Linked DNA regions of Homo sapiens. The protein of the gene in region 1 purifies or fractionates together with the protein of each later gene. This does not show direct contact. Each region holds a gene or a part of one and is shown in the gene's direction. Other genes may lie near its edges.

The links.
Region 2: the proteins of NPM3 (region 1) and DDX31 purify together in Homo sapiens (co-immunoprecipitation; 2 studies listed by BioGRID and IntAct, with this or other methods). This does not show direct contact.
Region 3: the proteins of NPM3 (region 1) and NCL fractionate together in Homo sapiens (co-fractionation; 4 studies listed by BioGRID and IntAct, with this or other methods). This does not show direct contact.
Region 4: the proteins of NPM3 (region 1) and RMP64 purify together in Homo sapiens (affinity purification with mass spectrometry; 4 studies listed by BioGRID and IntAct, with this or other methods). This does not show direct contact.

What each region holds. Positions count from the first base shown.
Region 1 is NC_000010.11:101,780,805-101,788,227, reverse strand, and holds NPM3 (nucleoplasmin-3), read left to right. Parts: upstream 1-4,781; 5' UTR 4,782-4,837; coding exon 4,838-4,955; intron 4,956-5,303; coding exon 5,304-5,389; intron 5,390-5,630; coding exon 5,631-5,750; intron 5,751-5,876; coding exon 5,877-5,970; intron 5,971-6,373; coding exon 6,374-6,492; 3' UTR 6,493-6,501; intron 6,502-6,595; 3' UTR 6,596-6,903; downstream 6,904-7,423. Other genes in the region: OGA (protein O-GlcNAcase), read left to right, coding at 705-864, 1,641-1,777. UniProt on the Homo sapiens protein: Plays a role in the regulation of diverse cellular processes such as ribosome biogenesis, chromatin remodeling or protein chaperoning. Modulates the histone chaperone function and the RNA-binding activity of nucleolar phosphoprotein B23/NPM.
Region 2 is NC_000009.12:132,645,980-132,653,002, reverse strand, and holds part of DDX31 (ATP-dependent DNA helicase DDX31), read left to right. Parts: intron 1-510; coding exon 511-555; intron 556-1,886; coding exon 1,887-1,928; intron 1,929-2,704; coding exon 2,705-2,769; intron 2,770-4,451; coding exon 4,452-4,571; intron 4,572-4,707; coding exon 4,708-4,814; intron 4,815-5,944; coding exon 5,945-6,180; intron 6,181-6,931; coding exon 6,932-7,023. UniProt on the Homo sapiens protein: May have DNA helicase activity and RNA helicase activity. Probably have ssDNA and RNA dependent ATPase activity. Plays a role in ribosome biogenesis and TP53/p53 regulation through its interaction with NPM1.
Region 3 is NC_000002.12:231,454,466-231,461,488, reverse strand, and holds part of NCL (nucleolin), read left to right. Parts: intron 1-622; coding exon 623-820; intron 821-924; coding exon 925-1,011; intron 1,012-1,046; exon of another isoform or gene 1,047-1,121; intron 1,122-1,195; coding exon 1,196-1,337; intron 1,338-2,363; coding exon 2,364-2,488; intron 2,489-3,099; coding exon 3,100-3,223; intron 3,224-3,688; coding exon 3,689-3,846; intron 3,847-4,364; coding exon 4,365-4,488; intron 4,489-4,724; coding exon 4,725-4,858; intron 4,859-4,965; exon of another isoform or gene 4,966-5,045; intron 5,046-5,352; coding exon 5,353-5,479; intron 5,480-5,552; exon of another isoform or gene 5,553-5,689; intron 5,690-5,864; coding exon 5,865-6,088; intron 6,089-6,221; coding exon 6,222-6,298; 3' UTR 6,299-7,023. UniProt on the Homo sapiens protein: Nucleolin is the major nucleolar protein of growing eukaryotic cells. It is found associated with intranucleolar chromatin and pre-ribosomal particles. It induces chromatin decondensation by binding to histone H1.
Region 4 is NC_000003.12:113,016,650-113,023,578, reverse strand, and holds the start of RMP64 (nucleolus and neural progenitor protein), read left to right. Parts: upstream 1-3,907; 5' UTR 3,908-3,931; coding exon 3,932-4,037; exon of another isoform or gene 4,038-4,061; intron 4,062-4,169; exon of another isoform or gene 4,170-4,513; intron 4,514-5,976; coding exon 5,977-6,131; intron 6,132-6,929. UniProt on the Homo sapiens protein: May play a role in cortex development as part of the Notch signaling pathway. Downstream of Notch may repress the expression of proneural genes and inhibit neuronal differentiation thereby maintaining neural progenitors.

The sequences.
Region 1 (7,423 bases):
GAGCTCAGGCAGTCTGCCTGCCTCAGCCTCCTAAAGTGCTAGGATTACAGGCGTGAGCTACTAGACCCAACCCAAACTTTTTTTTTTTTTTTTTTTTAAGACAGAGTCTCGCTCTGTTGCCCAGGCTGGAGTGCAGTGGCGCCATCTCAGCTCACTGCAAGCTCCGCCTCCTGGGTTCACGCCATTCTCTTGCCTCAGCCTCCCGAGTAGCTGGGACTACAGGTGCCCGCCAACACGACCTAATTTTTTGTATTTTTTTTTAGTAGAGACAGGGTTTCACTGTGTCAGCCAGGATGGTCTTGATCTCTGGCCCAAGCTTTTAAAAGTGAAAACGGTGGCCAGGCACGGCAGCACACACTTGTAATTCTAGCACTTCAGGAGGCCGAGATAGAAGGATCACTCGAGCCCAGGAATTCGAGACCAGCCCTGACGATATAAATAGGGAAAGAGAGAGAGAGAGAGAGAGAGCGCGTGCACGCGAGGGAGAATGCCTGCCCCTCTCCAGCCTGGCCAACAGAAGGAGATCCTGTCTCAAAGAAAGTGAAAATGCTTCAGCTAGAATTATAGGATAATCCTGTGTGAGATAATTTACATAGTGACTGGAAGAGTTATTAAATATTGCTTTCTTGTTGCTAAGTTCTGTAGTTGGGTTAGATATCTAATGCGTAACTATTGTGAAAGTCAAGAGATTCTAATTTTTCCAGAAAATAATGTTGAGTTTCCATGAAGAACAGGAAGTACTGCCAGAAACTTTCCTTGCTAATTTCCCTTCTCTGATAAAGATGGACATTCACAAAAAAGTAACTGACCCAAGTGTGGCCAAAAGCATGATGGCTTGCCTCCTGTCTTCACTGAAGGCTAATGGTGAGTACATATTTGTGGAGTTGGTGGTATTTGGGCAAGATAGGGAAAGAACTATATATTTTTGGATATAAAAGGAAAGAAGTGAATTGTAAATTTATACTGCTTTTCCCACCTTTTATGATTTGGTTTCTGAATTAATTAGTGGTGAAGAATCGCATGTGTATTAATAATTGAGAAATGCTGGTTGGGCTTAGTGGCTCATGCTTGTAATCCTAGCACTTCGGGAGGCCGAAGTGGGAGGATCACTTGAGTCCAGGAGTTTGAGACCAGCCTGAGCAATATGGCTGAGACCCCATCTCTACCTAATTTAAAAAAAAAAAAAAAAAAGGCCGGGCACGGTGGCTCACGCAGCACTTTGGGAGGCCGAAGTGGGCGGATCATGAGGTCAAGAGATCGAGACCAGCCTGGCCAACATGGTGAAACCCTGTCTCTACTAAGAGTGGTGGCAGGCGCCTGTAATCCCAGCTACTCGGGAGGCTGAGGCAGGAGACTTGCTTGAAGCCGGGAGGCGGAGGTTGCAGTGAGCCGTGATCTTGCCACTGGACTCCAACAGAGCAAGATTCTGTCTCGGGTGCGGGGGAAGCTGGGTGCAGTGGCTCACGCCACTCATTATTGAATTTTTTGAATATGAATTTTTTTAATTGTGTGAAATGTAGGAGCTGGTGTAGACAGACAAGCCCTGTTTATATTAACCATCTCGAAGATTATAGTTTTATATCTATAATTATACTAATTAAGTGACTTATTTATGTTTTGAATATTTGTTTTATTTCTAGGCTCCCGGGGAGCTTTCTGTGAAGTGAGACCAGATGATAAAAGAATTCTGGAATTTTACAGCAAGTTAGGATGTTTTGAAATTGCAAAAATGGAAGGATTTCCAAAGGATGTGGTTATACTTGGTCGGAGCCTGTGACATTTGTTGACACTGTGAACTGTCCAAAAGTCTCTTAACTGCACCTTGTGAATGGTAGTTGAGGTCTTCATACAGTTCAGCCTCTAGAATGGTAACAAATCAGCCAATTGGATTCGAAACAAAGAAGACTATGTAAAACTCACCCATCACACTTTGAGACTACTCACTGGTTGGAAGAATATAGTATTGCAGCAAATCCTGTATGAAAGAGAGATGTGGGCTTCCTTTTTGAGTCTTGTGTTAGGTGCTGAGACCTTTTACATGGGCTTATACAGGGAGAGAGTCTTCAATAAATGTAGTCAGCACTATTTTCTGCATCCAGTGTGGTTGCGTTTCTCACCTGAGAGTAATCAAGATAACATCTGTCATCTTCCTTGGTTTATTGAGTGAAATGCCTCTCAGTCTTAGGGGACATGGCAGAGATGAAAGAAAGAAAGAGTGGGTTTCAGAAGTGTCAGGGTGGAGTGATTCCAAGTGGGATGGTTGTGGCATTAGTTTAAGCTGAATAAATAATTTCAATTTGGGGCAGTTATTCTGCTTTTTGTAAAGCCGTGGCCAATTGTCTCCTGTAATGACTGTTGGTTCAGGCATGTTGTACTTTGTAGGGACAAATGTGCATTTGTTTGTGGCAAAAGCCTACAATTGACAAACTTGTAAATTTCTTTGTATATAAACTAGCTGTAACCTGACTATCCTTTGTGTTTACTGTTTTTGTAAATTTTTTTCCTCTATAAATGAAAGGGTGTTGGTTCAGAATGGCACTTTGAATAATGTAAACCAGTGAAAAGTGGATTTTCTTTACTTTTGTCTTTGGGTTTGGGGTTGTTTTTGTTCTTTTTGAAGTTTTATTATTTTTAAAGTGCCTCCCACCTAGGCGTAGGCCATGACCATTTGGGGTACGAGAGCCTAATTTTGTAGGACTTAATCTGTTGAAAAGTGCAGTTACTTCTGGAAATTAACCTCAATATTAGGTCAGCATGTGAAATGTTGGATTTGACATGTCAGGTAGGGTTCAGGGACTGATTGGTCCCATTTGCCCTCAGGTCAGTTGTTTAATCTCAAGACCTGTTACTACTGATTTTATTAAATCAGAGTCTTTAATTCTTGCATGTTTGTATCTAATTTCTGAATGAATGAGCACACTTTAACCAGTTATTTACAGTTACCTTTTTCCTTTAACCGGATTGTGAAAGCTTCATGTATTTTAATTTAGATTCTGTGTTTTTAAGGGTTCTGAGCATGAAGCTGGCAGATAGTCGGCAGGACTCATTTTTTCATCATGGCTGGCTGATTTCTCCATAGATTGATAACAGTATTTTGTTATCTTGCTTCTCTGTAGTTTTGCATCAGCTGTTTAACTTTGAGCTGAGTGAGGGGAGAGGGGTAAAGAGAAAGAAACTTAAGTTTTCTTTCACAGAACTCCACCATTGTGGGCTTTGAGAGAGCCCTAAAGCATTGTACCTAGTGGTACCTAGTGACTTCCAACCAAAGCCTTTGAGTATGCACTAAATAGGTGAGAAGAAAGGAGAGAAGGTTTTTAGGTTAGAAACCTTTAACCGATAGAAGGATATGGTATGTTGTAAAGCTGGAACCAAGTTTGCATTTTTGAGGGCTTGAGATGAAGGGAAGACTCTTACCAGATAGTAAGACAGCTGAGTTTTCCTCAGTTTTCTCGTCTTAACACTAGTGGACAATTCTAGCATTTTGTTTGGAGGATTTCAGAGTTAACCTCATGGAATTCAGGATTTTTTAGCAAGTTTGCTTTTGGTTTTATCTTGGCTTTTAGTAATCATGTTGGCTGGTCTGGTCACAGGTGACTGTGAAACAGATGCCCTGGTCTTGCTTTCATCACTCTAGGATCATGAAGTGCTATGCTATTTCCTGGTTATGAATATTAAGGTTGGAATTACATTTTTATTGATTGTTTGGATCAGAGCTCAGTTCCTGTAGAAAACGAACTGTAAAAGACCATGCAAGAGGCAAAATAAAACTTGAAGTGAATGCTTGTCGTGTTGTATTGTGTGAATCTATTTCCTGTCTGCCCCCTCCCTTTTCTCCTCTTTCATGCCTCACCTACAAGCAGGTATTCTCTCCTCTCCACAGCTGTTCCAAGTTAGAGATTGGATCTTGAAGGCAGCCCTCCCCTACCTCCATCACCAGTAAGACTTCCAGATTTTCATTAAGACAAGAGCTAAGAAAAGTAGACTAGTTTTTAGCCAAGCCACCCCACCCTCTTGCCACAGTTATAACCTGGATGTGAAATAGGGCCTCTAGTTTGAGTTTTGCCATCTATTAGGATAGAAAGCACACAGTTTGCCTGATTCTTAAAAGGCGAAAGATGGCGCGAGTAGCATAAACTGACAAAATAATCCACGGCGCAAAGATACTCCTGGATGATTTGGAATTAAAAGCTCAAAAAGCGTGGGTGGGCCAGGAACAGCCAACACACATGAGCTAACTAGTCCTCTGCTAGCAAGTGCCAGCAGCTAAGTCTCAGTGAAGGCATAGCAAGTTGCGGGGTCTTTAGAGCAGGAAGAATTAAGAGAGGCTTAGCCGAGAGGACAGACAGGACAGACGTGTTGGGATGGAAATTCCTAAGGCTCCTCGGCTCTCTTGAGGCAAAGACAATCTGAGTGCATTTCCTTTGCTTGTAGCAGAAAAGCACTGCCCTGAACCCCACCTTTGCTGGGAGGAGTAAGAAGGGTTTACATTTTTATATCTATAACTCCTTTAACGAAAGCTTACCCTGGGTTGGAAGAGTGGGAGACACTCTTCCGACACAGAGCGAGGAGCTTGGGGAAGTGGACACCCTCATGGTCGTGGAAATGAGCAAGGATGTTAACATAAACCCCAAATCCATTCTTCTGTGATGTTACTTCCTTTCTCTTCGGTCTTGATAAAATATGAGCAGAAGCTGCGGGCTCCGGGTAGGGCTGCGGGGTCTCGGCGCCTTTTCTTTTCCAGGACTGTGCGTCTCCTTTAATGGGCGGGGCCGGAACTGGCCGAGGGTCCCCGGCTTTGTGCGTGTCGGGGGCGGAGTTTGAAGAAGGCTCTTACAGCATGGCCGCCGGTACTGCAGCTGCCTTAGCGTTTTTGAGTCAGGAGAGCCGAACGCGGGCCGGGGGTGTCGGGGGCCTACGGGTCCCGGCCCCGGTCACTATGGACAGTTTTTTCTTCGGTATTAGTGAAGGGAGAGGCTGAGGGTGGTACTGGGGCGGTAAGAGGTAGGGATGTGAGGCGGGAATGCGGAGGGTTTCAAGGCGTGGGTGTGGGCGGAGGGCTGCTTCGCTGTTCCCGCAGGAGAGGGGGCCTCGCACGCACAGCCAAAGGGGGTGGCGAGATCCCTGCCCCAGATGTGTTGGGCGGGGCCCACGGCAGAGCGTCCCAGGTGTTCTGAGAGAAGAGACGGAGGTGGACGTGTAAATGACCCGTCCGCCCAAGGTTACACGTGACGGCGGGTTGGTGACATCCCCCGCTGCCCAGCCCCGTACACACGCTCAGGCATACTCACTGTTATTTCTACCAGGCTGTGAGCTCTCCGGCCACACCCGCTCCTTCACCTTTAAGGTAGAGGAAGAGGATGATGCGGAGCACGTGCTGGCACTAACCATGGTGAGGGGCAGGGGAGTGGGGTTTTAATGAATAAGCCCAGGCAGGCAATATAGGTCTCTACCCAACCTCCGGATCCCCTTTACTTGGAGACACATCCTCAGCCTAACCCCCCGGCATGGGCGGCTCCCCTGGCCAGGTGAACCGGGACCTCTGAGGCTGGGCAGGTGCTAGGGTAGATGCCTTTAGTTGTGGTGTCAACCCTCACTTGAGGAGACCCTGAGGCCCTGTGTACCGTTCCCAGCTCTGCCTCACCGAGGGAGCCAAAGACGAGTGTAATGTGGTAGAAGTTGTGGCCCGGAACCATGACCATCAGGAGATCGCAGTCCCTGTGGCCAACCTCAAGCTGTCCTGCCAACCCATGGTGAGTTCCCCAGCTCTGCCTTGGTGGTGGTGGTGGTGGTGGTGAGGGGATTGAGGACGTTAGCACTCATTACAGTGTGGGGTGGGCTAGGAGTGGGCCAGGCCTTCATCCTTGTCTTCCTCCCAGCTCAGTCTGGATGACTTCCAGCTCCAACCACCTGTAACCTTCCGCCTGAAGTCGGGCTCTGGCCCTGTGCGGATCACTGGGCGGCACCAGATTGGTGAGAAGAGGGGAGGGCCCTCTCCTTTGCTTCCAGTGGACTCTCCCATCAGGCTTCCCCCACTCCGCACTCCTGCCCCATCCCACCCTCATCTCCCAGTGCAGCCCTGTACAGGTCTGTGTGCCCTCCACGCTGTGCCCTGTGCATGACATGCCCTCTCCTTTCCGTCTACTCAAGCCTACCTCCTCCATGGAACATGGCCCAACTTCTCCAGCTCCAATAATGAAGACTCCTTTGGCTCTTTGTGACCCAGTTTAGGGTCTGAGGTTCTTCCCACCTAGCCCATAAGCACTGGGAGGTCATGGTCCCTGTAAGCCTAACACCACGGCGTGAAGAAATGGCATGCGGTGTGAAACGGTCTGGTCTTAACACCCCATCCTTCTACTGCTTGTGTGTCCACCAGTTACGATGAGCAATGATGTTTCTGAGGAGGAGAGCGAGGAAGAGGAAGAGGACAGTGATGAGGAAGAAGTTGAGCTGTGCCCCATCCTTCCTGCCAAAAAGCAGGGGGGCAGGCCCTAGCCCTCCTAGGTGAGTTGCGGGGAGAAGTGCCTAGCAGGCTCTGGGAAGGGGCAGGAGAAGCAGGTGAGGGCCTAAATGCTGATTCCTTGTTTCCTCTTTTCAGGTCAGCTCCATGTGCCATGCACCGCCATGCACCCTGTTCCCTGACAAGTTTCAACAATTGTAAATATTTCTTCCTTGAAGAGGAGAGCTTGGGTGGGGGTTGGGTGGGAGGGACTTGGGTCTTTGGTGCTAGGAGAGGGCCTGTGCTCCACACAGCCGTGGTTTTCTGATTTTCACCATGCCCGGGGCCTCCCTTCCCACCTGCCTGTGAGAATTGGAGGTTAGTGCCTGAAGCTCAGAGCTACACATTTTTAATAGTTTTTACATTTTTGGATAAAGGTTGAAATAAAGTGGTGTGGAGTTTTTGCAGCTCTTGTGTGGCTTCTTCCTGTGCTGGGTGATGTTTCCCTAGGGACCGCCAGGTGGCACTGTGGAAGCACCCAGCGTGGCCCTGGGCCTGGGGGAGGGTGGAGAACTGTGGGATCCTCTACCCTCATGGCCCTGGGCTAGGACCTGGGGCCTGGGCCCCAGTTGCCTTGCTGGAAGGGGACCTCCCAACACTCAGCCCATTCCCAGTCTCTGCAGGTGGGAGAGGGTCATCGCAGGAGGTTATCAGCATCCAAACAAGGGGTCTGGGCCTCTGTCAGCACTCGGCTGATGGGCAGGGGGGCAGATAAGCGAGCTTAGGCAGCCTGAGGAATGCGCGTCCCTAGCCCCACGAGGGTCTCTGGCCCAGAGAGGGCCTGTGAGGGCAGGGCGGGACCAGGCTTCGCTCCTCCTTTGAGCCTTGCAGGCTGTCTCTGAGCAGGGCTGGGCCCTTAGAGAAACCTGACTCCGGGGGCCAGATGGAGGGGACTGGCCAGATTGGGTGACAGGGAAACCAGAATCC
Region 2 (7,023 bases), on another chromosome or scaffold:
TAATGGGGTTAGTGGGTGTGTTAGTCCATTTTTACACTGCTGATAAAAACATACCCGAGACTGGGAAGACAAAGAGGTTTAATTTGACTTACAGTTCCACATGGCTGGGGGAGGTCTCATAATCATGGCAGAGGACGAAAGACATTTCTTACATGGCAGCAGCAAGAGAGAATGAGGAAGACGCAAAAGCAGAAACCCCTGATAAACCCATCAGATCTCGTGAGACTTATTCATTATCACGAGAATAACCGGCCCCCCTGATTCAATTACCACCTCACTCCTGCCCCCCTGCCCTTCCTCCTACAACATGTGGGAATTCTGGGAGATACAATGCAAGTCGAAATTTGGGTGGGGGCACAGCCAGACCACATCAGTGGGCAACCTTATTTTGTCCCTTTCTTCATTAAGAGTGCTTCTGATGTTCTACAACCGGCCACCCCTGTGTCCTGTCCGTTTGGAGTCTGCCTTTGTTTATCCTGCTCATGGCATTTTTTTTCTGTGTGTCAACAGCGCAGTGATGGCCCCTATGCCCTGGTGCTCGTGCCAACGAGAGAGGTAAGCAGGCTCCCTTTTGGGACAAGTTTTAAGCACATGCTTTCACTAATGTCCCGTTGAATTTAAAAGTGGTTTTACCATGTTTCTCCCTACTGCACAAGCCACTGCACACCAGTTCCATTTGCCTGGAAACCATCCTTCTGGTTCTTGTCAAGGAGAAAAATTCAAGTAGTCTCTGAGAATCATAAGTATGGAAAAGTATTTTCCTATTGTCTAGAAACTAATGATACTATTAAATGTCTGTTTAATTGGGTTTTGAATTAAGTTGCTAAAAAAAAACCTACAGAAATGCAATTTTTTAGCAACTTTATTCAAAACCAAAAGCAGTTGGCTCTGAAAATGAACCTTTATTTTTTTTAAGAAGCTACTGCTACCAAAAATGTTACTTGTTCCTAAAAGTTAAACTTTTCAATATTTTTTTCTTTCTTGGTGGAAATCTCTTCTATCTGATCTATTTTATTTGCCTACAGAGGCAACTTCAGATTAGGGTATGTGGTTTCTATATCAAATGCTAATCACTTCCTTACAGAGAATTGATCACAGAGATGATTTGAAGTCAGCTTTTCATATAGCCTGCAGTCCCCTATCTCAGCTCAGTCCAATGAAGGAGCAGGCACAGAAGCTATTAAAATTTTTACAGCAGCAAACTTGCTACTTCTCGAGGATGCTTCATGAATACTAAATATGTGGAAACTGTATATACGTTCTTTAAGAACGGGATTCTGTATGAGGCATTTTTGAAGGTTGTTAATGGTTGTAGCCTACTTTAATTTTCACTTGCTTTGTTCTCAAATGGAGCTGTTGGTTTGCTTTTGTTTTATTGATATAAACTTGAGGAGCGACCATCTCCCAGGCTTCAGATATCCTGGCACAGTTGTAGAATACAGTCATCGCTCCTTGAGAGCGAAGTTCCCAGAGGCTACCCTGTTGCGTCACTATTGTGGTTTACTCTGCGTACATATTATATTCTTTCTCTTTCTAAGGAGAGTCAAATTCAGGTTACTTTGTTTCATTCTCTTACGTTTTTGTGCACCACAGACTTGAACTTCTCTGTGTGGCACTCTGGGAATTTGAGCCAGCAGAGGGAGCACAAAACACTATTTTTGTGTATGTCCAAGAAATAGAAGTGTTGTCTTTACCCTCTTTGCCCAAACTGACAGGTTGCAGAACCAGTCTAAGAACAAGGTATATTAGATTCTGTGTATAGGATTTTTTTTCTTCTTAAATCTTAACTTGAGGTCCAAGTTTGGATCCTAATCACATTAAATTGTCTTTAAAAAAAAAAAAAGGGGGATCCTGTTCATCATCTATAACTTTTAAAATTTTTACAGCTAGCTCTACAAAGCTTTGACACTGTCCAGAAACTGCTTAAGGTAAGGCAAACCATGAGTTCCATTTCATCTTGCTTGCTGACTTTGAGGAAGGATTTAATATACTACAGTCTATTCTTTATTTTCAAAGAGATAAGAATTATTTCCTTTTGCCTGGATATCTCTGCTCTCTCTAGGCAGTTTATAGGTTTTTACTGATCTAAACCTACCAATTTCTAGCTTAGCTGAATTATCAGTGACTCCTGGTGCATAAAGTCCTGCAATTTGTTCATCATAGTCACTAGCAAGCCACATACAGAAATTCACAGGTACAGCCTGATGGTGATCCAGTAGAAAGCAACTTAGCTGCAAGTAGGATTTGTTTAAGAAAGGAGAGTGAAGGCTTCAGAATCAAAGCCAGCCAGCTCACCAAATTGGATCATGAATTGATCCATCCTTTCTTTTATTAGGGGTGGAGAGTAGGGAAGGGTGTTGCTTGGGTTTTTATCTTAACCCCAAAAATGGCAGTAGACTTACTGACATGTGTTTTCAGTTCAGGCTCTGTGGGAAAAGAAAGGCAAGCTACTTGAATGATTTAAGAAGCTCACATTTCTCTCTCACTGTGGTAGAAGCTAGTTATATACCTATAATTCAAGTTACTGCTGATAGTGAACATGGGTGTAGCAATGCCTAGGAATTGTGTCTGCACAATAACACCTTATACAATGAGAAGCACCAGTTTTCTCCCATGCCTTGTTTAAGGAAAGGGAATTTGGAATCAATGTCTGATGTTAGTAAAGGGGGCTTTGCACTGACTGTGGTCTGCTGTCTTTCTGTAGCCTTTCACCTGGATTGTGCCTGGAGTGTTAATGGGAGGAGAGAAGAGAAAATCAGAAAAGGCCAGGTAGGAAGAGGTTTGTTGGTTGTTGTTTCCTTCTTGAATGTGTCCTGCCTTCCTATTCAGTAAGGCTGGGTCCTTCTAAACCTGCTGAGAGCTTTGTCTCAGGCTCTGCTTCCTAGTCCCGGTGCACAGGGACAGATTGAGTCAGTGGGGAGCGGTCACCTCTAGACGGTGCTGTTTTTTAAAATATTAAACCTACAAACAGGTTTCCTTCTGATGTTGCTAGTAACAGTGCTGTCAACTTCTTAACTCCCACCTACCCAATGCTCTATAGCATCCCTGGTTTAGTATACATCCACCTGCATGCCACTCATTTTTGTGGACATTAAGAGTTTGGGGTTTTGTTGTTTGCTTTTACAAAAACAAGATCATTCACTTATATAATGCTTTGTAACTTGCTTTTTACAACCGAATATGTTTGTTCCTTTATTAGGATTTGTAATGGGTGTCAGTTGAAAATCGTTGCAACAAGTAAATCTCAAATTGTCTTCATTCTTTTGAAAACATTTTTATTGTATTATAGCTTAATAATCAGTACTCAATAATGATGCATGTAGTCTATAACTGAGGAGTAAATATGAAACCTGAAACCTCAAAGCATTGGTTAGGATTAGACTCAGCTGTGAATAACAACAATAATAACAAATAACAGTGGCACAAACAATATACAAGTTTTATTTTTCTTTCACATTTAAGAAATCTGACAGAGCCAGTCCAAGGCTGGCCTGGTGCTCCAGTGTCGGGGACCAAGCTCTTTCTGTCTTTTTGTGCCACTATGGGAGGATTCCATTTTTAAGATTACCTCATAGTCTTAGATAGTTGCAGGCACTCCAACCATTGCATCTAATTTCTTGCCAGCGGGTACAGAGATGCTCATACCTGCTCCCTCTGAAGGTGCTTGTGTGATTGGCGTGTTCCCTTTACCTTTTATCCCATTGCTAAAACAAACATGACTATACTTAACTGCAAGGGAAGCTTGAAAATATATCCAGCTAGGCTGGGTGCAGTGGCTCATGCCTGTAATCCTAGCACTTAGGGAGGCCAAGGCAGGAGGATGACTTAAGACCAGGAGTTTGAGACCAGCCTAGGCAACATAGTGAGACCCCCGTCTCTACAAAGAAAAAAAAAATGTGCTAAAAATTGGAAGCTTTTATTACGGTGGACTGACAGGAAAATGGTTGTCTGGGGAATGAGAAATTAGATTTATTGTATATAACCCATGGGACAAAGCTGAGCCCCGTTGAATGGAAGTTACATAAAGGGCTTAGCATAAGAAAAAAGTGTCCTAGCAATTGGAGCACATTGGCATGGAATCACTTGCTCAGATACTAGATTCTCTGGCACAGAAACCTTCGAGAACAGGCTAGACTACAATCTCTTTGGAAGGTTCTAGAGAGGATTTATGAGTCAGATAAAGAGCATTGGATTATGTAGTTATGATCCCTTTCAAAGTTAAAGTTTTATGATTTTAATGTAATTTCAGATCTTAACAATTGCATTTCACAGTACAGGGAAAGACTCAAGTACAGCTTTCTACCCAGTTTTTATGTTTTGTCATGATTTCAGGCTATGGCACGTTTGCACTGTACATGAAATGAGTCTGTCTATTTTGCCTTTTTCCTGTGTTTTCTACTGGCGTGGCCCTGTTTGATTTACTTTCTTTTATGATATATAATTTTAAACAGACTCCGCAAAGGAATAAATATCCTTATCTCAACTCCTGGACGCCTGGTGGATCATATAAAATCCACAAAGAACATTCATTTTAGTCGGCTGCGGTGGTTGGTGTTTGATGAAGCAGACAGGTGAGCCTCGTCCCAGGATGATAACAGGTAGAAGAGAAGGGCTGTTTCTCCTCTCCTTGTTGCAACTTCTGTAGCCCCTTAGACCACATCTGCTCTTCATATAGTTGAAAATTTCTTTTTTTTTTTACAATCACAGAATCTTGGATTTGGGTTTTGAAAAGGACATCACAGTGATACTTAATGCTGTAAATGCTGAATGCCAAAAACGACAGAATGTCTTGCTATCAGCGACACTCACAGAAGGTGAGTTGAAAAGAAGTGATGGGTCCTTCTTTGTTCTTAATGAAGAGGAAGGACCTAGATTTAACCTGGGTTGTTTGCTGCAGTGATTCTCAACCTCAGGGAGGTGGGGGCAGGGAGAGAGCTGTCCTTAGAAGACTGCCTTTTCAAACTCTATGTTCTACACTCCCAACTTCCCTCTGCAAGTCATCCAAGACAGATATGTTCCCCAGGGCATGGGGAAAGGGAGAAAGGGCAGGGATGAGGACGAGAAAAGACTGGCTGCTATTGGCTTGGTGGTTTCATGAGGTTTTTGTGCACTTGCAACCCATGGAGAGCAGGGCCCTTGCACTGAAGATGATGACCTCTTATCTGAGTGCATTTTTAATGTAATCACTCTTCCTCCTATAGAGCTATTAAACTTAAAAAATATATCAATGAAGCGCTTCTCTGTCTTCCATCCATGTGAGATGGAAATTCTTAGCTCTCTTTTTTATCACTGGGAACACGAAGGCTTGGAAAAGTTGTATCACTCTACCAGATCCACCCCACACAGTGAGTCATTGACCAGCAGTGCAGCTTTCACGTTTTTCTGTCTGGTTTCCTTGATTTACTAGGCCACATTATGATGTGCATGTACCAGATGCCATGCATGTGGTCCCTCACAGTTCCCTATGTTCTAATTTTTGAGGGATGATTCACGAAGAAGGGATTCTGTGGTCAAGAAAGTTTGAGAAATGCCCCACATCCCTCCCTTGGATATTCTCAGGGCACATTAACACAATAAAGGCCCTGAGAGGGCTGCTTATAGCAAAAACGCTTTTGTGAAACCTTTGAAATCCAAGATTTGCCATAACTTACTTGACCAAAGAACCCTTTTGGGAGGTGGGGGTGGGCGCAGTATCTGTTGCTATCTTTTGGACGCTGTTCCATAGGTGAGTGTTTATAGAATGGCTATGGAAAGATACGTTGGTAGATCTCCCTGCAACACACACGTTGGCACTAGGGCGGATCAGTGCTGGGACTTGGTGATACCCATGGGGTAACATACGTAGTCCTAACATACATGGGTGGGTGCTGTATGGGGGTACGCTTTTGTGACCAGTTTCATGGTGTGTTTGTTGTCTGCTTTGCCCTTCTTACTTTTATCCAAGGTGTAACGCGGCTAGCTGATATCAGTTTGCATGATCCAGTCAGTATTTCTGTCCTGGACAAGAGCCATGACCAGTTGAACCCAAAGGACAAAGCGGTCCAGGAGGTCTGTCCTCCACCAGCTGGCGACAAGCTGGACAGCTTTGCAATACCAGAGAGTCTCAAGCAGCATGTGACTGTGGTTCCCAGCAAACTGAGGCTTGTCTGCCTAGCGGCCTTCATCCTTCAGAAATGCAAGGTGGGACTGTGGGCTAGAGCCGACTTGATTCAGGGAAGAAAGGCCTGCTTTCTTGTGTTAAGCCATTGGGAGCAATGAGTTGAGACACCAAAAATCAGAGGTTTTCCAACTTATGTCTGCATTCCGGATGCAGACTTTGATATACATCCTTTCAGTCAGGTTTTAGGATTATGGTAAAAACTCAGAGGTCAATGATAGCCATGATGTTCAGCTTGAAATGTTCTCGATACCTTTCCTGGGACTGATATTAGGAACATCACAGGTGGCGGGAACAGCTGGATGTGAGGCAGACGTAGGGGCTTGTGCTCATGTTTCTCCAAGAGTCTTGGCATTTGTGTATTTATTTACTAGATTTCTGCGCTGACTCTGAGATGTGAGAAAATAGTAAGTGGAAGGGCTTAAGGGTGAAGGTTTTCTGCATATGTAGGGTCTCAGCCAGGTAGTGTTGCATGTGGCAAGCCCTGGGCGAATAAAGGGAACGGAGCTCCCACACAGCTGTGCTCCCAGGTGTGTTTATTTTTGTCAGATAAGGGAAACCTGTTTGAAATGATAGCTGTGTCGTTTTCCTCTCCTGCATTCTTTGTAGAGTGGAGTATCACTGTTTTTGTTTTTGTTTTTTTAAATAATTCAAAGATAGTCACCTTTATTTCCAAATGGGGGTCAGCATGACTGTATAGTTTAGAGAAATATTCGTTTTGGCGTCACCTAATCTTAAAATATGTCGGTTTTTCCTCCCTTTGTATCGATGTAGTTTGAGGAAGACCAGAAGATGGTTGTCTTTTTCTCAAGTTGCGAGCTGGTGGAGTTCCACTACAGCCTCTTCCTACAGACCCTGCTGAGCAG
Region 3 (7,023 bases), on another chromosome or scaffold:
GATTCTGGGATCAACATATTCCTTCCACGACAACCTGGAGATGAGATTAGAATCCTTGTGGGAATTCTCTGGGTTGTTGTGGTGTGCTAGACTTAATTACCCATGAATGATTTTTGTGCCTCTTGAGAAAATTTCAATAGCACATTCTATTAGTGTTTTTTATAATGTAGGATTTTGTTTCTAAGTGATTTTTTTTTTTTTTAAATTTTTTTGAGATGGAGCTTTTGCTGTTTCCCAGGCTGGAGTGCAATGGCGCGCTATCTCGGCTCACTGCAGCCTCCATCTCCTGGGTTCAAGCAGTTCTGCCTCAGCCTCCCGAGTAGCTGGGATTACAGGTGCCCACCACCACACCCTACTAATTTTTGTATTTTTAGTAGAGACGACATTTCACCATGTTGGCCAGGCTGGTCTCGAACTTTTGACCTCAGGTGATCCACCCACCTTGGTCTCCCAAAGTGCTAGGATTACAGGCGTGAGCCACTGCGCCCGGCCCCAAGTGATCTATTCTTGCCATGACTGTTAACTAAACATGGTGACAGGATTGCATTTTCTTTACATTAGATTTGAAAACCGATGTTGGTTTTGGGAGATTGCTGCAATTTTTAGGTGACTTCTCTTTCAGACTCTGAAGAAGAAGCTATGGAGACTACACCAGCCAAAGGAAAGAAAGCTGCAAAAGTTGTTCCTGTGAAAGCCAAGAACGTGGCTGAGGATGAAGATGAAGAAGAGGATGATGAGGACGAGGATGACGACGACGACGAAGATGATGAAGATGATGATGATGAAGATGATGAGGAGGAGGAAGAAGAGGAGGAGGAAGGTACTTAAATTAGATTCTGACATACGACATGAGTTATGTTTAAAGGAGGCACTTAAGTGTTTGTGGCTACTGATGTGTGATACATTGTTTGACATCTTGTCCAGAGCCTGTCAAAGAAGCACCTGGAAAACGAAAGAAGGAAATGGCCAAACAGAAAGCAGCTCCTGAAGCCAAGAAACAGAAAGTGGAAGGTAACTTGCAGAATTAGGGGATATGGGGGAGATAAACAGCACAAATGATGAATAACAAAGGGACTTAATACTGAAACCTGATGTTACATTGTAGTGTGCTGATGTGCTGTGTATAGAAATTTTGCTTTGGAAACTAACTTTTTACCACACTACAAGTAGACTGAGTTGAGCTTTTTTTGTGCAGGCACAGAACCGACTACGGCTTTCAATCTCTTTGTTGGAAACCTAAACTTTAACAAATCTGCTCCTGAATTAAAAACTGGTATCAGCGATGTTTTTGCTAAAAATGATCTTGCTGTTGTGGATGTCAGAATTGGTATGACTAGGTAAGTGCTTCACTGCACGTTACATACACGTGGGTCTGTTAATGCTTTTCCTTCCCCTGTTAGCACAGTTACTTTAGCCTGCTACTGTTAAACATGAATACTGTAAACATCTTCAAGGATTAGCATTAGTGAACTAAGTTAGAATTAAACTGTAGATCCCCTAAGTTGCAATTTCCATAATCAGTCGTAACTTGGTATAGCACAGAATAATTTTTAGTAAGTTTTTTTGTTGTTTTTGTTATGTATTGAGACGGACGCTGGCTTTTGCTCAGGCTGGAGTACAGTGGCGCAATCTTGGCTCACTGCAACCTCTGCCTCCCGGGTTCAAGCGATTCTCCTGCCTAAGCCTCCCAAGTAGCTGGGATTACGGGTGCACTTCACCATGCCTGGCTAATTTTTGTATTTTTAGTTGAGATGGCATTTCACCATGTTGGTCAGGCTGGTTTTGAACTCCTGACCTCAAGTGATCCACCCACCTCGGCCTCTCGAAGTGCTGGGATTACAGGCGTGAGCCACCCTGCCAGTAAGTTTTAATAATTTGGTGTTAGGTGGGAGAATCGCTTGAACCTGGGAGGCAGAGGTTGCAGTGAGCCAAGTTCGCGCCACTGTACTCCAGCCTGGGCAACAGATTGAGACACCGTCTCAATTTAAAATAATGTTTATTTTCTTGGAAGTACCTGAAACTATTAGACCTGTCTAGTCATCATAGTGAATACTTTTATCCAGACAGGATTCTCCTGTATTAGTGCTTATAGGTGTTCTTTTGTCAGCTGCTACTGTGAATTCTTATAAGCAATTTAGCTCCATGATGAAGACCTCAAACGTGAATGTGCATGTCATATCTTCATGCTGAGACCTTGTTCTGTAGCTGCAGTTTGCAGAGCCTTGACTTTGTTTTGCTAATACTAGGGGTGCTTTTTAAAATGTGATCTTTGTTTGCACCATCACATTTGTCTAGAATACATATTGTGGATTTTGATTTGTGTTTTCACCTGTTGTAATTTTGCCCTCCTCTCCACCTTGAAGGAAATTTGGTTATGTGGATTTTGAATCTGCTGAAGACCTGGAGAAAGCGTTGGAACTCACTGGTTTGAAAGTCTTTGGCAATGAAATTAAACTAGAGAAACCAAAAGGAAAAGACAGTAAGAAAGGTATGTAAGGCTTTATGAGATTATGCAATGAACTCAGGAGCTAGACTGCTAGGGAAAATGCTTTGTAACCCATTTCCCTTGGTTTCCTCTTATTTTTTTAAATCATTTTTTTCCTTTGGTTTCCTCTTAATGTGGGAATTAAATGAGCTACAGTGTTTACAAGAGTACTTGGCACTGCTTGTCAGTGTTATAGTGTAAATTCCTGAGTTAGGCAAGCAAGAGCACTTTTATACAGAACAAGAATTATTAGATGCACCTAAATTAACGTAAAGGGATCTTTCTTCACTGAAACTAGATTAGGTCCCTAATTACTCCCTATATACAGTTGTAATGTTTTGAATTGGTACATTCACTTTTTTTGTTATGCGCGTCTACTCTAGGTTGAACTCCAGTGTACCTAACAGAGAGTTTGACATCAGCTGTGACAACATGGAGGGACCACTTGTGTGTTGACACTGCTATATCTCCATATTTAGCACCGAGCCTTGTACATTATAGGATCTCAAATTATTTGTTGAATAGAGCTATGTGTGTTTTTCCCCTCTTTTTGTTGTTGCCCCCCACCTTTGGTTTTTCAGGCCACAGAGCTCATTTTTGTTTTTTTAATCTAGAGCGAGATGCGAGAACACTTTTGGCTAAAAATCTCCCTTACAAAGTCACTCAGGATGAATTGAAAGAAGTGTTTGAAGATGCTGCGGAGATCAGATTAGTCAGCAAGGATGGGAAAAGTAAAGGGTATGTTCTGTCTATTGAAATGTAAGGGTTTTATTAACATTAATGCACTTTCCTGCTTTATAAAAGAAATATTGGTTTGATTTCCTTAGGCGTGTAATCTTGGACAGTTTAACCTGTAAGTTTGTGCCTCAGTAACCCATCTGTACCATGGGGATAATGTACTCATAGGGTGATTTTAAAAGACAAGCTAATACTTACAAAGAAGCAAGAAATGTGCCTATCTTACAATAAATACTTTGTAAGTAGTAGCAGTTCTTTCAGTGAGGTGAGGTTACTATGAAAAAATTCCAAGTATTTGTAAAACTAGTGGGAAGTAAGAGGGAAGCTCGAGTTTTGATTGAAAAGTGGCATAAAACTAAGGGCATTTATTGTACTCAGATCTGAAGCAAGTTCTGTGTTGCTGAGGTAAAAGCATTTGTGTTAATATGGTTTTAAAAACCATGAGTTCTTCTCCCTCCATTGCAGGATTGCTTATATTGAATTTAAGACAGAAGCTGATGCAGAGAAAACCTTTGAAGAAAAGCAGGGAACAGAGATCGATGGGCGATCTATTTCCCTGTACTATACTGGAGAGAAAGGTCAAAATCAAGACTATAGAGGTGGAAAGAATAGCACTTGGAGTGGTAAGAAATTAGGCTTGTTACAAGGTTTCAGAATTGGTGGAGGGAACTCCTTTGTGTCTTTGTATTTCATAAGTTTATAAATACTTTTTAATCAAAGTTACTCAAATGTAGGTGAAGATCAAGGACATGATACCCCAAGTCATACTCTTATTTGGAATAGTAATTTCCAATCTTGAATGAGAGCTCTAAAATCATTTTGCATTGGAATACAGTAGGCAAATCAAGCTTCCTTTGTAGGCATGTTTTATACTTTAAATGACTTGACCATGTGCGTTTTGAACTCAGATGATTCTAGGAAAACAGACCAGTCATCAGCCTATGTAAGAACAACCAGCAGGACATTGCAACACGTACTAGGTACTTAATATGTTGAGTAACAGAAATGGATTTAGCTTACGTCATGAGTATTTGTATATTAACTCAAGCACTGAAATTCTTAGGAATAAGATATTACTGTTGTGACCGAAGCTGGGAACCACTGTTTCAGAGTCTTAGGAATGTGGCATCTCTATTTGCAGGTGAATCAAAAACTCTGGTTTTAAGCAACCTCTCCTACAGTGCAACAGAAGAAACTCTTCAGGAAGTATTTGAGAAAGCAACTTTTATCAAAGTACCCCAGAACCAAAATGGCAAATCTAAAGGGTAAGATAATACCTTTGTATCATCAGTTATAGGCTATATATGTCTTAGAGGTCTAAAGGAACGTAAGGTCATGTGATCCTGTCAGAAAAGCCAAATAATTTTAGCTACGTAAATGAGTGTAAAATAAAGATCATCATTTAGGTACCAACTTGAGAGAAGGGGCTTGGCAGCATCATGTGACAGTGAAGGAGCATGTGCCTGGTAACTTACTCTAAGCATTAACTGTTCATCCTCAGGTATGCATTTATAGAGTTTGCTTCATTCGAAGACGCTAAAGAAGCTTTAAATTCCTGTAATAAAAGGGAAATTGAGGGCAGAGCAATCAGGCTGGAGTTGCAAGGACCCAGGGGATCACCTAATGCCAGAAGCCGTAAGTTCACCTGGTTAGGGTGCTGTGGTTGGGGGTAGCACTCTCGGTGCTTTGTTTATTTTTTGCACAAATTCTGTGTTTCCTGTTGCTACTGAGTGAACAATAACTGGATATGATGACTGATTACCTGAGAAATAATTGATGAAATCTCAAGAAAATTCCTCTAGATAGTCAAGTTCTGATCCAGCTGTGTCAACTCAGAGTAGCAAGTTTGCCCATGATTTCCTGCCCCATCCACTGGGCCCCACCTGCTTGGGTTGCTTCTCCCACTTTCCATAGAAGATCTGGGGCAGGATATCAACTATGCAATGGCAATTAAAAAATGTAAACCCAGAATAGCCTTTACTTTAATTAAGGACTAGTTGGCTTAGTTGCTTTTAACTGCTTTTTCACTATAACAAGTATTCTTGGCTAGTAGTCATACTAGGCATTGTGCAAATTCAGTGTTACGAACTGTGACTTCACATAAAGTCACATTTTTTTTTCCTTCCCAGAGCCATCCAAAACTCTGTTTGTCAAAGGCCTGTCTGAGGATACCACTGAAGAGACATTAAAGGAGTCATTTGACGGCTCCGTTCGGGCAAGGATAGTTACTGACCGGGAAACTGGGTCCTCCAAAGGGTAAGGGAAGGAAGCGTGAGTGCTGCTTCCACTTGAAGGGGTTTTTGTTCTGTGCAGACCTTGAGTCTAATGTGTCTTCTCATTGAGCTCCTTTCTGTCTATCAGTGGCAGTTTATGGATTCGCACGAGAAGAAGAGAGAATTCACAGAACTAGCATTATTTTACCTTCTGTCTTTACAGAGGTATATTTAGCTGTATTGTGAGACATTCTGGGGTTCAAGCTGTCACACCAGTTAGTTTTCCATAGAGAGCTACTCTGTCACTGGTATCTTTTCCCAAATAAACAAGGCTACTTTCTGTGGGATGGCTCCCCAGCATGTACAGTTAACTTGGGACATGTGTAGTAGGTGCTTTTTATAATGGGCAATTTCATTTGGTGTTCTAGGTTTGGTTTTGTAGACTTCAACAGTGAGGAGGATGCCAAAGCTGCCAAGGAGGCCATGGAAGACGGTGAAATTGATGGAAATAAAGTTACCTTGGACTGGGCCAAACCTAAGGGTGAAGGTGGCTTCGGGGGTCGTGGTGGAGGCAGAGGCGGCTTTGGAGGACGAGGTGGTGGTAGAGGAGGCCGAGGAGGATTTGGTGGCAGAGGCCGGGGAGGCTTTGGAGGTAAGGCACGCAGAGATAATGACACCACATAGCATGTGCTCTTCAGACCCTGTGCCCTGTCACGGTTCCTAATCACTGGGGAGGAGGAGCTTTGTACCCATTCTTTTAACAGTGTCTTGCCTTCCTCCTGTAGGGCGAGGAGGCTTCCGAGGAGGCAGAGGAGGAGGAGGTGACCACAAGCCACAAGGAAAGAAGACGAAGTTTGAATAGCTTCTGTCCCTCTGCTTTCCCTTTTCCATTTGAAAGAAAGGACTCTGGGGTTTTTACTGTTACCTGATCAATGACAGAGCCTTCTGAGGACATTCCAAGACAGTATACAGTCCTGTGGTCTCCTTGGAAATCCGTCTAGTTAACATTTCAAGGGCAATACCGTGTTGGTTTTGACTGGATATTCATATAAACTTTTTAAAGAGTTGAGTGATAGAGCTAACCCTTATCTGTAAGTTTTGAATTTATATTGTTTCATCCCATGTACAAAACCATTTTTTCCTACAAATAGTTTGGGTTTTGTTGTTGTTTCTTTTTTTTGTTTTGTTTTTGTTTTTTTTTTTTTTGCGTTCGTGGGGTTGTAAAAGAAAAGAAAGCAGAATGTTTTATCATGGTTTTTGCTTCAGCGGCTTTAGGACAAATTAAAAGTCAACTCTGGTGCCAGACGTGTTACTTCCTAAAGAGTGTTTCCCCTGGAATGTCACTGGAGAGCATGGCAAAGCCAGCTCTGCCACTTGCTTCACCCATCCCAATGGAAATGGCTTAGTGCGTGTTTCCAGTATCCCAGCCCTAACTAACTTGGTTGAAATGCTGGTGAGGGGACCTGCTCCTGCAGCCCTGGTGCTGACTTGAAGGCTGCTGCAGCTTCTCCTACTTTTAGCAGGTCTGAGGATTATGTCCTGAAGACCACTCTGGAAAGAGGTGCAGGAACAGATTAGTCAGGTTTC
Region 4 (6,929 bases), on another chromosome or scaffold:
ATTTGGGTAGGGACACAGACCCAAACCATATCATCATTCTAGACATGTAAATATGTAAATAGGTTGAGCATCTTTAAACTGAAAATCCAAAATCTGAAGTGCTCCAAAATGCCAAACTTTTTGAGTACTGACATGATGATACAAGTTACCCTGAACACATTAATTTTCACTGTATTAATGGTATATCATTTTTTTTACTATTAAGCACATATGTGTGAATAAGAGAAAAAAATGGTTGCTTAACAGCAGCATATAGGCTGGGTGCGGTGGCTCACACCTGTAATCCCAGCACTTTGGGAGGCCAAGGCGGGCAGATCACAAGGTCAGCAGATCGAGACTATCCTGGCTAACACAGTGAAACCCCGTCTCTACTAAAAATACAAAAAAACATTAGCCAGACATGGTGGTGGGCACCTGTAGTCCCAGCTACTCGGGAGGCTGAGACAGGAGAATAGTGTGATCTTGTGAGGTGGAGCTTGCAGTGAGCCGGGATCGTGCCACTGCACTCCAGCCTGGGCAACAGAGTGAGACTCTATCTCAAAAAACAAACAAACAAACAAACAAACAAACAAAAAAACAGTAGCATATAAATTCAGAGTCAGGAATGATGTTGACACCAAACAACCACAGACTGTCCACATGGGTGATTGAGATGTACACAAACTTTGTTTCATGCACAAAATTATTAAAAATATTACATAAAAGTTTCTTCAGGCCATGTGTTTAAGGTAGATATGAAACATACATACATTTCATGTTTATACTTGGGTCCCATACCCAAGATATCTCATGTATATTTGCAAGTATTCCAAAATCTAAAAAAAACCGGAAATCTGAAACAATTTTGGTCCCAAGCATTTCAGATAAGGGACACTCTCCACCCATGCTAGACATCTAAATAAGTCATACTGTCTATATCCAGTAGAAATGCTTGAAGGTTTGGGTCTGCATCATTTCTGGCCTTAGCTTTTGTAATAGAACAGATGGGCCTGGTCTCCTTACTTCCAACCTCTTCTCTCCCAAATCTGTTCTCCAGGGTGCTCTTCTTCTGAGGCAAGCTGACAAAAATTGCTCTGCCTAAGACTCAGTGAGTGACTCCTTTATCACCTATAGCAAGGACACGTCAACCTAGAGTACCATCACAAAGACCTTTTCAAAACAGACCTACTCAGAACTAATGAGTAAGAATTTTCAAGTGGGACCTGAAAATCTCTATTTTTAAGTTATCCAGGCAATTTTGATAATCAGCCAGGTTTCTGAACTACTGGTCTTCAGGTAAAAAGCCAAATTCTTCCCATGATCTGACTGACACCACTATTCCCAGCTCCACCCCTCAGCACAAATCACGTCCCAGCAGTACCAACTCAGGACTAGTGATTCTTCAAACCCATGCTGCTTAAAACCTCTCTGTAGGAATATCCTTTTTCCTTTAACTGCCTGGGGAGTTCCTATTCATCCTTCAAAAGACTCTATTCAAGCATCATCCAACCTCATATACAGCCAGTAAATATCTACTGAGGCCCTACTATATGCCAGGCTCTGAACTAAGCATTGAGATAGAAAGACCAGTTAGCTATGTCAATGGTAGTTCTCGCTTTCAGTAGGTTCATATGCCATTGGAGAAATAGACATGAAAGTAAACAAAGAAATACAATAAAGCGAGGTAAATTCTGTGAGAGAGGCTGTGGTAGGCTGAATAAAGATCCCTCCACCTCCCACCCAAAGATGTTCACATGCTAATTTCCATAATCTGTAAATATGTTACCTTGCACTGAGAAGGGATTTTGTAGCTATATAACCTTGAGATTTCAGCTGCTTGAGATTTCAGCACCCCAGCATTTTTGTGTGTGTGTGTGTGTGTGTGTGTGCATGAAATAATGAAAATTTTGAACAGGCCCTTGCTTGCTTGTACATGTTAACCACTCGCTTTTTGCCCAGTATTCCTTGTTCCCACAATGTAATTATAAACTGCTGATGTACTGTTTCTTTGTCAAGCAGAAGGAGATAACTTCAGGGTCATAAGAATAGTTTGCAGAAGGAATGAATTCCTGGAAGGACATTGCAACCAGCTGCCATGTACATACGGCTGCACAAGGTGTTACCTGAAATGGAAGAAACACAGACTTTTCCCTTGGATTCCTTGAAACTCCCTCTCCATTACTCTCTAGCTCCATAAAAACTCCCTGCTTCTTTTTTGTTACTGTGGATCTGAGAGATCTTGCTCTCTTGCCCTCTAACTTTGGTCAAATCGAATAAATATTTCTCTGTCTCCAAGCACCAGTATCTCAATATTTGGCATCAGCTGCCCATCGGGTACATGAGCCTGAATTTGGAGTTCTAAAACAGATGTGATTAAGTTAAAGATTCTGAGATGGAGTGACTATCCTGATTATCTTGATGGGCTCAATGTAATCACAAGGGTGTTTTTAAGAGGGAGGCAGGCAGGAGGGTGAGAGAGACAGAGGAAGAGGAGGAGACTGAAAAATGTCATGCTGACAATGAAGGTGGAGGATAGTGAAATGAGCCAAGGAATGAAGGCAGCCTCTAGAAGCTGGAAAAGGAAAGGAAATGAATTCTTCCCTAGAGATTCCGGAAGGAACCAGCCCTGCCAACTTCAGTCCATTGAAATTAATTTTGGACTTCTGACCTCCAGAAATGTAAAATAACTTCTACTTATTTCAAGCCATTAGGTTTGTCGTAATTGGTTACAGCAGCAATAGAAAACTAATACATAGGCCAACATAGGGCACTGTGGTAACACATTAAAGGGGCCTCTGTATCAAGTTATGGAGTGAGGACGGGGTGTTTAGGAAGAATTACCCCAAGTGACGACCCCAGAGCTGAGGAAAGGAGATTGTGTTTCCGAGGATGACCCAGGTAGAGTAGGTAGATGTGTAAAGGCGCACAGAAAGAGCATGGAAAGTGTTTCAATAAAGTAAGACTGCTTGCATGAAATAGTAGTAATAACATCAACAATATTAACTATGGTAAATGTTCATTGTTTGTATGCCAGGAGTGCCTTGGCATTTTACAAGTCTGTGAGATTGATACTATTATTATCATCTTCATTTTACCCACAGGGATACTAAGGTCTGGAGGAGGAGGTAAGTAAATTTCCTGAGATCACCGAGCTAGTAAACAGCAAAGCTAGAACTAGAACCTTGGCAGTCTGTTTCCAAAACTCACTGTTTTTCTAATACGTTACTGTGGGAGTGTTAAGAACTTAAGGGGGCATTAGCATGGCTGAGGATAAATGAATTATTAGAAAGATATTAATGAGGTAAGGATCACTAGAGCTTGGAATATGATCTTGTCTTGGAGACTGACAAAAGTGGGAATGACTGACAGGTGTCTTCCAAGTTTCTTTGATGTGATCTCGGTTTTGCTGTGGTTCAAGACATAAAGGAGCCTTCCTTTACCACTCAAAGCAAATCACTGCTTCTTCGCTACAAATTCCACACCTTGCACAAACCTCTTCATTTCATTTCTTCCTTTTTCCCCTAATGTCTGAGGCAGAGTTGGGGGTAAAAGCACCAACTCAATTCTGGGCCTCATTTTCCATATTTGTAAAATGCCTAGAAGTATTTAACAGTTCCAAACTTGGTTGTGCTTCCGAATCCCCTGCGCTAAGTTTAAACAAAACGCAGATTCCTCATCGCATTCTCAGAGATTCTGTTGGTTAGTATTGGGATGGGGCCTTTTTTCCCCCATGATTCTACGCGGCCACGTGTTGGTAACCAATATACAGATGACTGGGTCCTTCCCAGTCCCACGCGTTTACTCGATGAAGGCAGCCTCCCGCCGGGCTCCTGGCCCCGCCCGAGCCCCACCCCCTGCTCCCTTCCGGCCCGGACTGGGTCCCATCGCCCCACCTCCGGTCGCTGGACGTGCTCTCGCGTAGCTCCGCCTTTCGTAAGTCCCCCCGCCTCGCATGATGGCTGCGGTGCCGCCGGGCCTGGAGCCGTGGAACCGTGTGAGAATCCCTAAGGCGGGGAACCGCAGCGCAGTGACAGTGCAGAACCCCGGCGCGGCCCTTGGTGAGTGAGGCGCCGGGCGAGGATGGGGGAACGTTTCCGGGGGAGGCCGCCAGGCCCAGCCGGCGCATGTGGGCGGGGGTGGTACCGGGACTTCCCGGCCCGGGGGACGCTGGGAAGGGGCGCGGGGCACGTAGGGGTCGAGCGGTCCCAGCACTTTGCTGGTGTAGCTTGTAGGGCCTCTGGCTTCGCATTCCTTCATTGAACCAGCTGTGCTAACCCAGGGCTTGGCTGGAGAGATGAAAGACCAAGGCTCAGCCGTGCGCTGAGGGGGCGGAGAGAGGTGGACTCAGCTGGTGCCGGGGAACAGTGCTGCCTGGGAACCCTTGCTCACCCGGGTCTTCGGAGTCTTGTTTACCCTTCCGTCCATTTCCCCTTTCCTTCTTTTTCCTGTACCCGAGGAGCGGTGGACGTCACCTAAGCACTGGGACTCAAACTGCAATCTTTTCGGACCTCTATCTGCTTATCTGTGAAATGGAGTTAGTCCTCCTACTCCTCACAGGGGCGTTGGGAATATCTAATGATGTAATTTAGGAGACAGTGCGCTGTAAACGACGGTGTTTTGCCACCTAAATGGGTGGTATTTGTTAGGGTGAAGGGCATATAGTAGGTAGGAGCCTGGCGCAGGAGCCAGGTTGTTTGGGTTTGAATACTAGCTCTACCCTTTGCTGGAGCTTGAAGGAGTCATTGAACCTTTCTGTGCCTCACTGATCTCACTTTCAAATGGAGATAAAAGCACCTTCCTCATAGGGCTGTTTGGGGGGATGAAAGAGTTGATAATGTAGAGAAAGCATTTGGAACACTGCCTGGCATGGTAAATGAACACTCAAATGGAAGCTGTTATGAATATTAAATACGTAGCTCCGGGGCCCAAGGGAGAGAATACAGTCATGGGTTCTTTGTTTCCGGTTGGGCTGGTAAAGCCCTTTCCTCATCCCTCTTTTCACTAGAGACAAACTAAAAACCATGGCTTTAAGCTGCAAAAAGCCTAAAACAAAACAGAACAGAACAACAAAATAAGGCGGGTTGGACAAGCTTGACTTAGATCATCACATCCCCTTTCCCATATATCCATCCTACACACTTTACAGATTATCCCATCTATCCTTCCTACACACTTTACAGATTAATCTTCCCTCTTTCTCTATTCAAAAATTCTTTAACAACTCCTATTAGGCCTGGGAAATTCACCAACTCACTACCCATCCCCGAGGCAGCCCATTCTGTCTTCAGGTAGTTGTTGGGACAGTAAGAAAATTCTTGTTAGGTAGCAACCAGCCTTTACTTCCATTTAGAATGCTAGTGCTGCCTTTAGAGCCATAAATAACACATGAACTACATCTTAGGGACTTCTACAGATTTTCAGACTAGGAAGCATCTGCTGATGAGCACCCGGTGTTCATCAAATAATACGATTTCCAGTTACTGTGGTGGTTTTTCTTTTCTGAATATGTTTGTGTCTCTCATAAAGTGATATCCAAACACAGAAGCCTTGATTTTGAAGACTGTGAATTTATTCATTCTGTCTTGCTTTCGGGCATAGCGACATGGGGAGTTAGAGAGTTATTACACATGTTGTGACATGTGCCCTACCTTCAAGGTGGGGGTTAAGTGTACACATGAGGCGTAAGTGTACACCAAATGACTGACAGCAAAGTATTCATATGAAAGATTATTAAACCATGATAAAATGCAATGCAAAGATACAGCTTCTTGTTTTACAGATGTTCTCTTAATGATTTCCTGGACTTTATATCATCTGTTACCATTTTCCAACTTCTCTTATACTTAGAATCCTTACGTTCTTACAGTTGAGACTGATTACATTAGTTTTTGATTCCTTTAAAACAAATAAGGAAAGATGCTTTTTTTAGTGTGTTTTTAATATAATATACTTACTGTAGAAATACATACTAAATCTTATTAGATGTCTCTGCTTCAGACCTTTGCATTGCAGCTGTAATTAAAGAATGCCATCTCGTCATACTGTCGCTGAAGAGCCAAACCTTAGATGCAGAAACAGATGTGTTATGTGCAGTCCTTTACAGCAATCACAACAGAATGGGCCGCCACAAACCCCATTTGGCCCTCAAACAGGTGAGGAAGCCCGGTAGGTGAGACCCAACCTGTTCACTTGAAAATGTAGATCACACTGCCACTTACTATATTGCTATTTATGGAAATCTCGTGGAAATCTCAGTAAATTACTTGTGTTTTATAGGCCTATAGCCCACAGTTACATGTGCACTTTCTTTTTTTTTCCTAAAAGCATTTCAGCATTTCAAAAAGTAATTTTTGTTAGAAAAGAAGTATGTTTAGATTCTTTCCCAGTCTTGTTTCTAATAGGCAAGTAAACATTTTCTTCATTATATACAATCTATAACAACAGTGCCTTTGCCCAGCTCAAAGATAAAGTGATTTGAGCAAGACAAAATGTTGGACATTAAGAAACAGTTCCCTGGGCATAATCAGAATGCTAAAATTATTTTTAAAAAAACTTGTCTACTTATTATGGGGTACATAATCTAATTGGTGGTATGTTAGAGTAAATGGGTACATAGCAAGTTGTGGTGTAAACTGGTTTCATGTAATGTTTGGAGCTTAAGACAAAATTGGGCCCTCCAGCTCAGGGGCTATACCATAGAGTAGAGCCTCTCTTAAGCTGGCTTCCTGATATGCTCATTCATTCATTCACTTAATTCTGCAAGTATTTTCTGGAAGTTCAGAAGGCTATCCATTGTGTGACAGGGCTACCTTGCAAGTGTTTTTGAACTTTCTGTGTGCCAGGCATTCTGCTTAGTGCTGTGTATAGAGGAGTGAAAAAGGTAGACACAGTCTCTAACCTTATAGATGCATGCTTTCTGGTTAGTTTTCTACCCCTAGTACTTAAAGCAA